Linked DNA regions of Homo sapiens: region 1 is linked to region 2. Evidence: fine-mapped expression QTL. A gene starts in region 2. The other region holds a variant in brackets. All regions are shown on one strand. Distances are between the middles of the regions. Region 1 has its middle 64 kb from the start of TMPRSS11E. Region 2 holds the start of UBA6-DT (UBA6 divergent transcript).

The links.
Region 1: its variant is fine-mapped to the expression of UBA6-DT in fibroblasts (GTEx, PIP 0.96).

What each region holds. Positions count from the first base shown.
Region 1 is chr4:68,507,218-68,515,564 of GRCh38, forward strand. No RefSeq gene overlaps it. Among named protein-coding and RNA genes, the nearest start is that of TMPRSS11E, 64 kb to the left of the region's middle. The variant G/A (reference allele first, on the strand shown) is at 3,509.
Region 2 is chr4:67,696,845-67,705,144 of GRCh38, forward strand. UBA6-DT (UBA6 divergent transcript) reads left to right here and starts at 4,434. Exons shown (of 2, transcript NR_015439.1): 1 at 4,434-4,640. UBA6 (ubiquitin like modifier activating enzyme 6) reads right to left here and starts at 4,311. Exons shown (of 33, transcript NM_018227.6): 1 at 4,205-4,311. The coding sequence starts at 4,275. RefSeq lists silencers at 4,035-4,204, 4,335-4,404.

The DNA.
Region 1 (8,347 bases), 810 kb after region 2:
GTCTCCAGTGTTTATTTTATGAATGTCTGCCACAAATATTGAATCTGACCATCGTGATTTAGGTGTTCTCTGTATAGTTTCATATGAGTATATTATGAAGCCAATGTCTATATGCATTTTTATAATACTTAATACTTTTCCCCAAGTGTCTGATTCTTTTAAAATATGCAATCATTATCTGAGAATCTAATACATAATGGAAAAGCAAGAAAATTTGTGACAAAAATTATTTTATGTAAGAAAGAAGTAGAGGACAGGCTGCACAACTATTGACCTGGATTCGAACCTACCTTCTGCAAATGAATAACAACAGCTAGTATTAGTATTTATCACTATTGTTCTAATAGTCATTCTTGCCCTTGTCTTCCTTCTCCACCTACTCTCTTCCCCCTTCTAATGGCACCATCACTTTCCTCTAATGTGAATGGGAAAATTTTTTGAGAATAAGGTTAGAGTGCATAGAATTTTCATTGGTCTTACCTCTGCCTTTGTCCTTTGGGAAATTACCACATAGAGCCTATGCAATTTTCATTCAACATAAACATTGAGTTTTAACTCAAGTAAGATTTCAGTTTTCTGTTGCTGCTTATAAGAAGGTAGACAAAAAGATCTCTTAAGGCTTATATAATAAAGTAGTGAGGAATGCTTGCTTTCTGCTTATGTCTCAAAAGAATAACATTAAAGTAAAATATATGAGGTTCTTTTGTTTCTTCGTAAGGAAGATCATCCTATATCCTGACAGAATTCTTTTGTAAATCTCAGTGTAGTTTTCAGATGCAAGTGGTAGACATTATTTGGATCTTATTATACATGCATTGTTCATTTTTTTTTGGTGCTTCTCTGTCAGGCAGCTGTGATGATGAGTCCCAAGTTTCCCAGAGATTTTTACTGAGGTGTCCTATAGGCTTGGTATAAGGCAGAAAACATTAAAAGGGTAAACTGACCCTTTTATGCTCTAAGATATAAACCTCTGTCATCTCACTGACTAATGTTTTAAATGCTAGAGTGAAAGCAAGTAAACATTGGCTTTGGCTGTGAATATTCTGGTGGCACACATTTATGTCGTTGATGAATAGTGTACCTTGAAAAGCCTTAACCCTTACGCCGTTAGCATTTCATCTTGTTCATCTGACTGCCCAAACATCTATATTTAAACAAATCCACAGGGGATCTGTTCTCTAGGACTTTGCTGGAGAACCTTGATGTGTCGGAAAACTGTTCCTATTAATAGAGGAATTATATCTCGAGTGGCTGGCATATGTTAACTAATGGATACTATTAATAGTAATAACAAAAATAAAAAATCATTACAATATTACTACTATTTGAATCACTGACTATGTATGAGAGACATTATAAGTGTTTTATCTATGTTAAGTATATTTCCAACACGACACAATAGGAGGTAATTGCCATTATTATAGAAGTAGGCATAATTATCTCTATCAACATTCTAGTCCACTTTTCCATCATTATCTGTTGCATAAACTCATGCAAAATCTTCTAAATGATCTACACTTTTCACAATCTGGCCTTTTTGCGATGTAATCCATTGACAACATTGAGAGCTTTTTAAAGAAAGGGAATCTGATAATATCTCTCCATTTCTGAACTCTGTGCAGTAGCTCCCCTTTGCCCTTAATAGATACTTAGATCTCCTTATAGTTATATTGCTTCAACTTACCTCTCTAGCATCATCTGCTACTTTACTCAGCTTTTTCCTGCATACTAATTTGAAACCTTAGGCACTGCCTTTACTTCACTACCTGCTTTTCTTTTTGTGTTTTCCTCTCCCCCTCATCTTTTCATCTACTCCTAGACATTATTGAGGACTCACTTTATCAATGACTTTGAGATCTCTTCTACATGTTTCCTTAGCATTGTGACCTTATAACACTTTTAGACTTTTCCTTTTTACTTGCTTATAGTCTATCTTTCAAAGTACAACGTAAGGCATGAGGGAGCAGAAAGTGCCTACATTTCTTCTCTGAAAATCCAGCACTTATCCGTGGTTTGTGCTGATCAATTCATAAATATTCCTTGAAGGAATGACTTATTTTTTTTTTTACATTGCACAATGAAGGCTTTCATTGAATCAACCCTGTTTTCAGAGTCTCTTTAGTATCCCTCTTTGATATTTAATGACACTAAAGTTTACACAGTTGTGATGATATAGCAACATATGAGTTTCTAATGGTAGGTCACTTTCTTTGACCTCCCGTATTTCTCTCACTGTGAGTCAAACACTCTGAATGAAAACATATCTGGCCATTCCTTCTGAAATGCAAAGCAAATAAATCAAACATGAATACATTTACCTTAGGCAGGGTTTTGGCTGGTTTACAGTGGAGTTCCCCCACAAAATCGACATTTGGTAAGGGTGGGTGAAGAAATTCAAAATCCCAGTACGTTTGAATGAGCCACACTTCAGCTTTCCCCATTGTCTCAAATAATGTACATTAATAAAATAAATATATACATATATTTTTATATATAAGCATAACAATTTTATATATTGCATATTACTTATATATAAGGAAAGCAAAATGTTCAGAGAATTAAGAGGAAATTACATATATTTTTTTCTTTTTCTTTTTTTTATTATACTTTAAGTTTTAGGGTACATGTGCACATTGTGCAGGTTAGTTACATATGTATACATGTGCCATGCTGGTGCACTGCACCCACTAACTCGTCATCTAGCATTAGGTATATCTCCCAATGCTATCCCTGCCCCCTGCCCCTACCCCACCACAGTCCCCAGAGTGTGATATTCCCCTTCCTGTGTCCATGTGATCTCATTGTTCAATTCCCACCTATGAGTGAGAATATGTGGTGTTTGGTTTTTTGTTCTTGCGATAGTTTACTGAGAATGATGATTTCCAATTTCATCCATGTCCCTACAAAGGACATGAACTCATCATTTTTTATGGCTGCATAGTATTCCATGGTATATATGTGCCACATTTTCTTAATCCAGTCTATCATTGTTGGACATTTGGGTTGGTTCCAAGTCTTTGCTATTGTGAATAATGTCACAATAAACATACGTGTGCATGTGTCTTTATAGCAGTATGATTTTTAGTCCTTTGGGTATATACCCAGTAATGGGATGGCTGGGTCAAATGGTATTTCTAGTTCTAGATCCCTGAGGAATTGCCACACTGACTTCCACAATGGTTGAACTAGTTTACAGTCCCACCAACAGTGTAAAAGTGTTCCTATTTCTCCACATCCTCTCCAGCACCTGTTTTTTCCTGACTTTTTAATGATTGCCATTCTAACTGGTGTGAGATGGTATCTCATTGTGGTTTTGATTTGCATTTCTCTGATGGCCAGTGATGATGAGCATTTTTTCATGTCTTTTTTGGCTGCATAAATGTCTTCTTTTGAGAAGTGTCTGTTCATGTCCTTTGCCCACTTTTTGATGGGGTTGTTTGTTTTTTTCTTGTAAATTTGTTTGAGTTCATTGTAGATTCTGGATATTAGCCCTTTGTCAGTTGAGTAG[G/A]TTGCAAAAATTTTCTCCCATTCTGTAGGTTGCCTGTTCACTCTGATGGTAGTTTCTTTTGCTGTGCAGAAGCTCTTTAGTTTAATTAGATCCCATTTGTCAATTTTGGCTTTTCTTGCCATTGCTTTTGGTGTTTTAGACATGAAGTCCTTGCCCATGCCTATGTCCTGAATGGTAATGCCTAGATTTTCTTCTAGGGTTTTTATGGTTTTAGGTCTAACGTTTAAGTCTTTAATCCATCTTGAATTGATTTTTGTATAAGGTGTAAGGAAGGGATCCAGTTTCAGCTTTCTACATATGGCTAGCCAGTTTTCCCAGCACCATTTATTAAATAGGGAATCCTTTCCCCATTGCTTGTTTTTCTCAGGTTTGTCAAAGATCAGATAGTTGTAGATATGCGGCGTTATTTCTGAGGGCTCTGTTGTGTTCCATTGATCTATATCTCTGTTTTGGTACCAGTACCATGCTGTTTTGGTTACTGTAGCCTTGTAGTATAGTTTGAAGTCAGGTAGCGTGATGCCTCCAGCTTTGTTCTTTTGGCTTAGGATTGACTTGGTGATGCGGGCTCTTTTTTGGTTCCATATGAACTTTAAAGTAGTTTTTTCCAATTCTGTGAAGAAAGGCATTGGTAGCTTGATGGGGATGGCATTGCATCTGTAAATTACCTTGGGCAGTATGGCCATTTTCACGATATCGATTCTTCCTACCCATGAGCAGGGAATGTTCTTCCATTTGTTTGTATCCTCTTTTATTTCCTTGAGCAGTGGTTTGCAGTTCTCCTTGAAGAGGTCCTTCATATCCCTTGTAATTTGGATTCCTAGGTATTTAATTCTCTTTGAAGCAATTGTGAATGGGAGTTCACTCATGATTTGGCTCTCTGTTTGTCTGTTGTTGGTGTATAAGAATGCTTGTGATTTTGGTACATTGATTTTGTATCCTGAGACTTTGCTAAAGTTGCTTATCAGCTTAAGGAGATTTTGGGCTGAGACAATGGGGTTTTCTAGATATACAATCATGTCTTCTGCAAACAGGGACAATTTGACTTCCTCTTTTCCTAATTGAATACCCTTTATTTCCTTCTCCTGCCTCATTGCCCTGGCCAGAACTTCCAACACTATGTTGAATAGGAGTGGTGAGAGAGGGCATCCCTGTCTTGTGCCAGTTTTCAAAGGGAATGCTTCCAGTTTTTGCCCATTCAGTATGATATTGGCTGTGGGTTTGTCATAGATAGCTCTTATTATTTTGAAATACGTCCCATCAATACCTAATTTATTGAGAGTTTTTAGCATGAAGGGTTGTTGAATTTTGTCAAAGGCTTTTTCTGCATCTATTGAGATAATCATGTGGTTTTTGTCTTTGGCTCTGTTTATATGCTGGATTACATTTATTGATTTGTGTATATTGAACCAGCCTTGCATCCCAGGGATGAAGCCCACTTGATCATGGTGGATACGCTTTTTGATGTGCTGCTGGATTCGATTTGGCAGTATTTTATTGAGGATTTTTGCATCAATGTTCATCAAGGATATTGGTCTAAAATTCTCTTTTTTGGTTGTGTCTCTGCCTGGCTTTGGTATTAGAATGATGCTGGCCTCATAAAATGAGTTAGGGAGGATTCCCTCTTTTTCTATTGATTGGAATAGTTTCAGAAGGAATGGTACCAGTTCCTCCTTGTACCTCTGGTAGAATTCGGCTGTGAATCCATCTGGTCCTGGACTCTTTTTTGTTGGTAAGCTATTGATTATTGCCATAATTTCAGATCCTGTTATTGGTCTATTCAGAGATTCACCTTCTTCCTGGTTTAGTCTTGGGAGAGTGTATGTGTCGAGGAATTTATCCATTTCTTCTAGATTTTCTAGTTTATTTGCGTAGAGGTGTTTGTAGTATTCTCTGATGGTAGTTTGTATTTCTGTGGGATCAGTGGTGATATCCCCTTTATCATTTTTTATTGCGTCTATTTGATTCTTCTCTCTTTTTTTCTTTATTAGTCTTGCTAGCGGTCTATCAATTTTGTTGATCCTTTCAAAAAACCAGCTCCTGGATTCATTAATTTTTTGAAGGGTTTTTTGTGTCTCTATTTCCTTCAGTTCTGCTCTGATTTTAGTTATTTCTTGCCTTCTGCTAGCTTTTGAATGTGTTTGCTCTTGCTTTTCTAGTTATTTTAATTGTGATGTTAGGGTGTCAATTTTGGATCTTTCCTGCTTTCTCTTGTGGGCATTTAGTGCTATAAATTTCCCTCTACACACTGCTTTAAATGCGTCCCAGAGATTCTGGTATGTTGTGTCTTTGTTCTCATTGGTTTCAAAGAACATCTTTATTTCTGCCTTCATTTTGTTATGTACCCAGTAGTCATTCAGGAGCAGGTTGTTCAGTTTCCATGTAGTTGAGCGGTTTTGAGTGAGATTCTTAATCCTGAGTTCTACTTTGATTGTACTGTGGTCTGAGAGATAGTTTGTTGTAATTTCTGTTCTTTTACATTTGCTGAGGAGAGCTTTACTTCCAAGTACGTGGTCAATTTTGGAATAGGTGTGGTGTGGTGCTGAAAAAAATGTATATTCTGTTGATTTGGGGTGGAGAGTTTTGTAGATGTCTATTAGGTCCGCTTGGTGCAGAGCTGAGTTCAATTCCTGGGTATCCTTGTTGACTTTCTCTCTCGTTGATCTGTCTAATGTTGACAGTGGGGTGTTAAAGTCTCCCATTATTAATGTGTGGGAGTCTAAGTCTCTTTGTAGGTCACTTAGGACTTGCTTTATGAATCTGGGTGCTCCTGTATTGGGTGCATGTATATTTAGGATAGTTAGCTCTTCTTGTTGAATTGATCCCTTTACCATTATGTAATGACCTTCTTTGTCTCTTTTGATCTTTGTTGGTTTAAAGTCTGTTTTATCAGAGACTAGGATTGCAACCCCTGCCTTTTTTTGTTTTCCATTTGCTTGGTAGATCTTCCTCCATCCTTTTATTTTGAGCCTATGTGTGTCTCTGCACGTGGGATGGGTTTCCTGAATACAGCACACTGATGGGTCTTGACTTTTTATCCAATTTGCCAGTCTGTGTCTTTTAATTGGAGCATTTAGTCCATTTACATTTAAAGTTAATATTGTTATGTGTGAATTTGATCCTGTCATTATGATGTTAGCTGGTTATTTTGCTAGTTAGTTGATGCAGTTTCTTCCTAGTCTCAATGGTCTTTACATTTTGGCATGATTTTGCAGCAGCTGGTACCGGTTGTTCCTTTCCATGTTTAGCATTTCCTTCAGGAGCTCTTTTAGGGCAGGACTGGTGGTGACAAAATCTTTCAGCATTTGCTTGTCTGTAAAGTATTTTATTTCTCCTTCACTTATGAAACTTAGTTTGGCTGGATATGAAATTCTGGGTTGAAAATTCTTTTCTTTAAGAATGTTGAGTATTGGCCCCCACTCTCTTCTGGCTTGTAGGGTTTCTGCCGAGAGATCCACTGTTAGTCTGATGGGCTTCCCTTTGAGGGTAAGCCCACCCTTCTCTCTGTCTGCCCTTAACATTTTTTTCTTCATTTCAACTTTGGTGAATCTGACAATTATGTGTCTTGGAGTTGCTCTTCTCGAGGAGTATCTTTGTGGCGTTCTTTGTATTTCCTGAATCTGAATGTTGGCCTGCCTTGCTAGATTGGGGAAGTTCTCCTGGATAATACCCTGCAGAGTGTTTTCCAACTTGGTTCCATTCTCCCCATCACTTTCAGGTACACCAATCAGACGTAGATTTGGTCTTTTCACATAGTCCCATATTTCTTGGAGGCTTTGCTCATTTCTTTTTATTCTTTTTTCTCTAAACTTCCCTTCTCGCTTCATTTCATTCATTTCATCTTCCATTGCTGATACCCTTTCTTCCAGTTGATCGCATCGGCTCCTGAGGCTTCTGCATTCTTCACGTAGTTCTCGAGCCTTGGTTTTCAGCTCCATCAGCTCCTTTAAGCACTTCTCTGTGTTGGTTATTCTAGTTATACATTCTTCTAAATTTTTTTCAAAGTTTTCAACTTATTTGCCTTTGGTTTGAATGTCCTCCCGTACCTCAGAGTAATTTGATCGTCTGAAGCCTTCTTCTCTCAGCTCGTCAAAGTCATTCTCCATCCAGCTTTGTTCCGTTGCTGGTGAGGAACTATGTTCCTTTGGAGGAGGAGAGGCGCTCTGCTTTTTAGAGTTTCCAGTTTTTCTGTTCTGTTTTTTCCCCATCTTTGTGGTTTTATCTACTTTTGGTCTTTGATGATGGTGATGTACAGATGGGTTTTTGGTGTGGATGTCCTTTCTGTTTGTTAGTTTTCCTTCTAACAGACAGGACCCTCAGCTGCAGGTCTGTTGGAATACCCCACCGTGTGAGGTGTCAGTGTGCCCCTGCTGCGGGGTGCCTCTCAGTTAGGCTGCTTGGGGGTCAGGGGTCAGGGACCCACTTGAGGAGGCAGTCTGCCCGTTCTCAGATCTCCAGCTGCGTGCTGGGAGAACCACTGCTCTCTTCAAAGCTGTCAGACAGGGACATTTAAGTCTGCAGAGGTTACTGCTGTCTTTTTGTCTGTGCCCTGCCCCCAGAGGTGGAGCCTACAGAGGCAGGCAGGCCTCCTTGAGCTGTGGTGGGCTCCACCCAGTTCGAGCTTCCCTGTTGCTTTGTTTACCTAAGCAAGCCTGGGCAATGGCGGGCGCCCCTCCCCCAGCCTCACTGCCACCTTGCAGTTTGATCTCAGACTGCTGTGCTAGCAATCAGCGAGACTCCATGGGCGTAGGACCCTCCGATCCAGGTGCGGGATATAATCTCGTGGTGCACCATTTTTTAAGCCCGTCGGAAAAGCCCAGTATTTGGGTGGGAGTGACCCGA
Region 2 (8,300 bases):
TTTTTAAATGGCCTGAAATTAAATTATCGGATTGCTTGTTCTATCCTGTGTAAATTTTAAGATTACAGAGCTCATCATCTTTTATTCTCAGATCTCAGGTGTTGTTTTATCACTGGTACATAAATACATATATATATATTTTGTTGTTGTTGTTGTTTGTTTGTTTGTTTTCTTTTTTGAGATGGGAGTCTCACTCTGTTACCGAGACTGGAGTGCAGAGGCACGATCTTGGCTTACTGCAACGTCCACCTCCTGGTTTCAGACGATTTTCATGCCTCAGCCTCCCAAGTGGCTGGGACTACAAGTGCACACCACCACATCCAATTAATTTTGTAATTTTAGTAGAGATGGGGTTTTACCATGTTGGCCAGGCTGGTCTTGAACTACTGACCTCAAGAGATCCACCCGCCTCAGCGTCCCAAAGTGCTAGGATTACAGGCGTGGGCCACTGTGCCCGCCTGTTTGGTACATATATTCTAATGGATCTGTATTTCAGCAATTCTGTACCATGAACTTTCTCTATATATACAGTCTTCCCAGATAAACTCATTCAATCCTATTGATGAATATATATTGATTATATTGAAACTTATTTCTCCACGTGTGATCTTTCCTCTGACCTCCAGATTGTATACAACTGCCAAAACAATAACTATTCTGATGTCTTAACTGGTATCACAAACATAACAAACTCCAAAGAGAATTCAATTACCCCTGCTTAATCTATTCTTCCTGTCTTTCCTAACTCATTTTCCGCTACCATCATTTACTGGGTTGGGCCTGAAATCTAGGGATCTTCTTGCTTAAATCATTCCCCAGTTTTCTCCATCTGAGACCTGTTAGCTCTACCTTCATAAGATATCTCAAACCTGATCATTTCTTACTATTTCAATCAGTACAATCTCAAGCCAAACCATCATCACATTTCACCTGGGCTATTTCAAAGACCTAGCTAGTCTCCTTATTTCCAGTATTGCCCTTCCCCTTTATTCTCCATAAAACAGTCTAAATATCTTAAAATGCAGTCAGAAATTATTCCCTGAATTTGGACTACCCTTCAGTGGATTTCCTTTACTCTTAAAACAAAATTCAAACACCTCACTATGCTTGAGAGGGCCAATGTGTCCTGTCTCCCAATTATCTCTCCAATTTCAACTCCCACCAGTCTCCGTTTTCGCTTACTATCTTCAAGCCACACTGACTTGTTTGCTGTTTCGCAAGAAGGCAAGCTTGCTCTCATTTCAGAGTTTTTACCTATTTCTTCTGCTTAGAATGTTCTTTCTTAAAATCTCGGAATAGCTGACTTCTTGTCACTTAAGCCTCTATTAAAATATTGTGTCACAAATACCACACACCTCATTCCTGATCACCCTATCAATAAAATGGCTACTCTTATCCTTAGGTTGCTGCCTAACTCATTAACCTGTCAGTTTCTTCAAATCACTTACCGTTAACTGTCTGCCACTACTACCAAAAAAATGTATGGTCTGTTAAAAACTCACTACTGTATTCCAAATACCTAAAACAGTACCAGGCATTTAATAATAATAGATAACCCTGTGCTACATATTTAAGTGCTTTAGATGTACTTATTCAGTTAACCCTTACAACAACCTTGTCCAAACAGTGGGCAAGCACTATTGCTATCTCCAACGAACAGATGGAAAAAAGAGGCTGAGGGAGGTTAACTTAAAATTTGCCCAAAGTCACAGAGCAGGCAAATGGCACTGCCAGGATCTGAACCCAGGCAGTCTAGCTCTTGACTACCACACATACTGCCTACTGTTTCTGATATTAGACATAAAGGAAACACTTAAAAAAACCTGTTAAATGGGATGGGCGCGGTGGCTCATGCTTGTAATCCCAGCACTTTGGGAGGCCAAGGCAGGCGGACCACCTGAAGTCAGGAGTTCGAGACCAGCCTGACCAACGTGGTGAAACCCTGTCTCTACTAAAAATACAAAAATTAGCCAGATGTAGTAGCAGGCGCCTGTATTCCCAGCTACTTGGGAGGCTGAGGTGGGAGAATCGCTTGAACCCGGGAGGAGGAGGCTGCAGTGAGCCAAGATCCCACCACTGTACTCCAGCCTGGGTGACAAGAGCAAGACTCTGTCAAAAAACAAACAAACAAAACAAAACAAAAAAACCCTGTTAAATGAATAAATTTTAAAGGAAAAAAACTAATCTAAATATGCAAATCTGACAAAGTATACTTATTATAGTAACATATTATTTATAGCAGTGCTCGTCCCATTTTCACAGCATGGCCTTCAAAAAACGTATCTGTACTAAACACTGGCAAGCAGAGATAATTCCCAGGTACAGGGAACCAGTCTGGAGCATTTGGAGCTGAACCACTGTGAGAGCTGAGATCAATATACTGGCAGAAGTGGAGGCCATTCCTAGTTCTGAGAAGCTCTAGTTGTCAATTAAAAGATTCTAAAAACAATGCGATGGCATCAAATTCAGGCTTGGAATCCAACTTTCTAGTCCTAGCATTGATAAATAAGCCAAAGAATTTGTAAACAAAGGTAATTAAAATGTTATCATTTATCTCACCAAACACTGGCACATATCAAATGATACCAGCTTCTAGCTAATTAAACGGATAGCTATTAAAAAAACTGATTCCAATTACCAAGGCAAATCAGAAGATAGCTGTGTTCTAAGAGATCACCTACCTAATAAAAAACACACACATACACAATATACCCTGTTTGGGCATTGTAACAAAATATAAAAATTAACAAAATTTGTTTCTTTTCTTTTTTTTTGAGACAGGGTCTCTCTCTGTCACCCAGACTGGAGTGCAGTGGCACGATCTCGGCTCACTGCAGCCTCGATCTCTCTAGACTCAAGCGATCCTCTCATCTTAGCCTCCCGAGTAGCTGGGACTACAGGCGTGCATCACCTACGCCCAGCTAATTTTTTTGTATTTTGTAGAGACGCGGTTTCGCCATGTTGCCCAGGCTAGTCTAAGAACTCCTGAGCTCAAGCGACCCGCCTGCTTCGACCTCCCAAAGCGCTGGGATTGCAAGCGTTTGAGCCACTGCGCCCGGCCAAAGTTTTTTATTATCTACTTTCCTATCATTTTATCCCTAGTACACTTTCACTTGCTGTTTTCCTTGCATGGCGGGGGCAATAGGCCTGGTGGGTAAATCTGAATAAAAACGAGAACAGCTGCAGTCTAACTAGCTCTGCCACTTAATGGCGTGACTGGCCCTTTTCAGAAAGTTGTGCCTCACTGGAATGTTTCAAAAATATGTAAAAATAATATGATCTATAAGACAATCAAAAACGCTTCAAATAAGGCGCGGGTTATATTACATAATATCCCTCCACTCTGGCAGTGTTGGCAATGGCAGACAACACCATGAAACTGAAAGCATCCCTTCAGTCTGAAACTGGCGAAAAGGCTACAGGTTTACAAAGTCTCACATCAGCTGAAAATAATACATCCATCAATTCTATCTTTGGCATGGTGTATTCTGACAGTGGTGGATAGAATGTAACCACTTGCTTTATTAATTATGAGATGATTGAAAGAGGAACTACTAACCAAGAAATTGGTAAAGGCCTAGCACAAATATTTTCCCCCTAATTTTACAGGGGCGGGAAAGACCTGAAGAACTTCAAAACCAAGTGGGAAATAAGAATGGGTAACTTGTGTATTTTTTTTTCCTGGCTTTTTTTTTTTCCTTCTTCCGAAGTCAACAAAGGCCTCAGGGTGTCCAGATTGCTACTGATTCATTCTTACCAAGTTCCTTCTGGTAATAGTTTTCAAAAGAGGATCTCAGTGGAGGTGCACAGTGGCGCTCCTAGCTTTCTTTTTACGGAAAGGAGGAAAGGTGCTTGGCACCAGTCGGGGAAGCTCACGCCAAGTGACCGAGACCAGAACTCGCTCTCGACCGGAGCCCCCCAAGTCTGGTGACTTGGAGGAAGGAGGATCCCGAATCCCAGCCAGAACTGAGAAAGCCCTCAAAGGTGCGGAAAGGGGACTTTTCCCTCAGGAAAGCCGGCAACAGCAGAGGCCCTAGCCCACGTCGCCACACCCACTCCGCGCGCGCCCCTCGCCTCCCAGGGCCGGCTCTGCTCGGCCCCGCGGCCTCTCGGGCGCCCCCAGCCCGCCGGAAAGAAAGAAGCAGAAACCCGGAGCCTGGGTCCCACCCGCGACCCCTCACCTTCGCCCTTCTCGTCCTCTCACCTGCCAGTCCCCCAGGAAGAACAGGACGCCTCTTCCCCCTGATGGGCGGCCACAGGCTCGGATCCTTCCATTGCCGCCTGAGACACCGCCGCCGGCTACTGGAAGGTAGGAAGGGGCGGGACCGTGGGGGGGTCAAGGGGCGGGCGGAGACGTCATCAGAGGGGGCGGGCCTGGGGAAGCTAGGAGCCCGGCAGCGCCTTCCCGTCAACCCTAGGGGCGTCCTGGTTTCCGGTTTGGGTGTGGCCGCATGGCGTGCTGTGGTGCAGGTGGCCGAAGGGGGCGTTACTGTTGCGACTGGCATCCGCATCCGGCAGATGTAGATGGAACCAAAGTCCAGAAGTTACGCGTCACCCTTGCTCTACAGCCAAACATGCAGGACTCTAGTAACCCGCGAAATGATGGGATAGCGTTGCAAATCCTTAAAAGAGTCTTAACGGTAAGAAGAGGAAACAGCTTTATTTTATAAATAAACTGAAGGCTGCTAATAGCTCCAGATTGTCAGTGAGGGGATACCACTTAAAGATGTTATACATTTAATAAATAATTTTGGGAGTCCACTACATGTGAGGCGCTGCCTCAGATTTAATAGAATCATGTGACTTTTAGTGCCATAGATGTCGTTAGATCATCCAGTTTGGTCCCTTAAATTTGTGGGTAAGGGAAAGGAACTTCCGGTCAGTGCAAGTGACTTGGTCAAGGTTATAGAGCTAGTCACTGTTAGATTACCAGAACACATATCTAAAAAGTTCTCATATAATTCTTTTTCATTTACTTCCGTGTCACCTTTCTTAGAAAGCAAAAATGAGTTGGACACAATAACATTAGGATTTGTCTTTCACTAAATAACACTGTATATTTGAATAAACATCTGCAGGATTTTTAAAATTAGCATATACTTTGGGTATTATGTAATTTTCTGTGATGTATCATATTTTTAATTAGAAATTTTTCCTCTCATATGGAGATGAGGGTCCAGGCAAAACTGTATTATCCTTCGTGCCCTCTATTCTCTTCAAAATTGCACATCTTAAAATACCTGGAAGCTTTATGTTGCTCACCTATAGCATTATCCGTGTTCCTCAATCCAGTTGTGAACCTTTTCCACATTAAAATGTTCTTGATCTGTGTTCTATTCTTTCAAGGCTCTGCTCTAGCACTAAGATAATGCTACAGGACTGAAGATAATGAAAAAGATTGAAGAAAGCAGAAACAGAACAAAAATCAGATTATTTCAAAGTTTCTTTCCTTGTAAAGGTTAAAACAGAGCATACTTCCTTATTATGCCCACTAGGTTAACTAGAATCTCCTGTTTTTTTAAAAAAAACTGGCTCATTTTTTCAAAATCCACTTTAATTACATGGTGCTTAGCACAAGCAACTCCATTCTGGTTTGATCTGATGGGGCCTAGTGTAGAAGGCTAGGCCAAAACAATGGCCTGCCATTACCCACGCTTCTTCATATTTTAACATCCATGAATAGAGGATGAATTTTTAAAAAATAAATACAGAAAACGATGCATCTTAAAATTGAGGGCATGTTAGATTTGATAAAATATGGTGTGAATTATTTCAGGCATGTAACAAGCAACCAGATTTAACAGATTTTAATGTTTTGTCACATATGTAAAATGGGAAAGAAAACTAGGCGATCACAGCTTTTTGACAGTGAGGCTTTATGTCATAAGAAAGTAGAATGACATATTGAGGAAACTTAAGGGAAAAATATGTAGGCCAAAGATTTTACATTCAGCAAAACTAATATACAAAAGGTACAAACTGTTATCAACAATTGATATATCAATTTGGTGAGACTAGTGTTTTCATGAGCCCCTCCTTAATAATTAATTGGAGAAAGTGTCTGACAATCAGAATTATTACAGAAACATTGATCTAAGGATTGACTCGGTTTCTTTACAGCAAATCATAATCTGTTGCATTTATTAGCTTTTGTGTTTCTTGTAGTTTATTCTTTATTACTAATTCTCCTGAGTTCTGTCACCTCATTTCTGAGGTTTTTCTAATTCAGAATCAAGTTCTTCCATATCTTTTATCATTTCTCTAATGTCATTTAGCTAGTTTCAAAATAATAAATTGTTTTGTAGTGCATCTTTCAGGCATGTTTTTATTATCTTTGATGATGATGTTATATTCCTTATTCTCTTCACATAATAACTGCATGGATTTGAACTTGATGCTTTTTTTGTTGCTCTTTTTTTTTTTTTTTTTTTTTTTTTTTTGAGACAGAGCCTTGCTCTGTTGCCCAGGTTGGAGTGCAGTGGCGGGATCTTGGCTCACTGCAAGTTCTGCCTCCCGGATTCACGCCATTCTCCTGCCTCAGCCTCCCGAGTAGCTGGAACTACAGGCACCTGCCACCACGCCCGGCTAATTTTTTGTATTTTTAGTAGAGACGGGGTTTCACCGTGTTAGCCAGGATGGTCTCGATCTCCTGACCTCGTGATCCACCCCTTGGCCTCCCAAAGTGCTGGGATTACAGGCGTGAGTTATTGCTCATTTTTATGTGAAATTGGTGTTCCTGAACTAATATGAGACAGGCTTCTTAGCCCAATAAGCCTAAGTTTATCAGGAACAAAACTGTATTCCAAGAAAGTCAGGTATATTAGTCTGTTTTCACACTGCTATAAAGAAATACCCGAGACTGGGTAATTTATAAAGGAAAGAGATTTAGTTGACTCACAGTTCCACATGGCTGGGGAGTCCTCAGGAAACTTAAATCATAGCAGAAGGTGAAGGAGAAGCAAGACATATCTTACACGGTGGCAGGAGAGAAGTGAGATCGTGGGAAAACTGCCACTTTTAAAACCATCAGATCTCATGAGAACTCCCTCATTATCACAAGAATAGCATGGGGGAACTGCCCCCATAATCTAATCACCTCCCACCAGGTCTCTCCTTGCACACATGGGAATTAAAATTTGAAGTGAGATTTGGGTGGGGACACAGAGCAGACCATATCATCAGGTTTACTGGCTCATTGCAAGGAGGGAGCCCACATTCCAGAAGAACCATGGGGTACCTCACCAACAGAGGAAGAGATAGATTTATTGTAGGAATTTGGGGAAGTATGGAGTTTAGAAGGAATTGAAATGAAGTAGTGCTTTGATAGACTCAAAAGAAAGCAAGGCTGTTTGTAAAGAATTCTACACTACATCTAAACTATTACTAATGGCAAAAACTGCAATTACTTTTGCACCAACGTAATACAAGATGGACCCAGGGTTCTGTTTTTTGGAAATTGCAAAGTTCTGCCTCTCAGAAGTAGAAACTATTTCTCTGTGTCAATGTGACTTTAGATATTCTAGCCAAGAGTGAGATATTTCAATCTTAATAATAGGATTTAAACAGCAGAGTTTTTGACAATCTTTTGATATTGTCATAAATGTTCTATGATTTTAGAGAAAAGGGCATTGTGTGAGTAAAAAATCAGTTACTCTAAGGGTGTGTGTGTGTGTGTGTGTGTGTGTGTGTGTGTGTGTGTGTTTGAGACATTTTAAAGCATCTTCCAGAGAGAAATAGTATTTTCTGTTAATTTCACAGCTGGCTTTATTTATGCCTGTTATCCCATAGCTGATGAATGGCAAAGCAGATTTTTACTTTCTTATTCTATGCTTATTTGCTTTCTCACAGGTTTTGGGAAAACTTTTCTAATTTCAGAGAATTCCCTTTTCTGTTGCTTTTGTGTAATGTTCAGCAATATTATGGTTTTATTTCCTTTTTAAATTAATACATACATAATAAGCATATATTTATGGGGTATTTTGATATTTGCGTACAAGGTATAATGATAAAACCAAGGTAATTGTGATATCCATCACCTCAAACATTGTTTATTTCTTTGTGTTAGGAACATTTCACATCTTGCCTTCTAGCTATTTTGAAATATATGATAAATTATTGTTAACTATAGTCACCCTCTAGTGCTATCGAACACTAGAAATTGTTTCCTCTATCTAATTGTATTTTTGTACCCATTACGCAACCTTTTTCATCCTCCTTACCCCCAACCTTCCCAGCCTCTGGTAACCATCATTCTACTCTCTACTGCCATGAGATCCACTTTTTTAGCTCTCACTTATGAG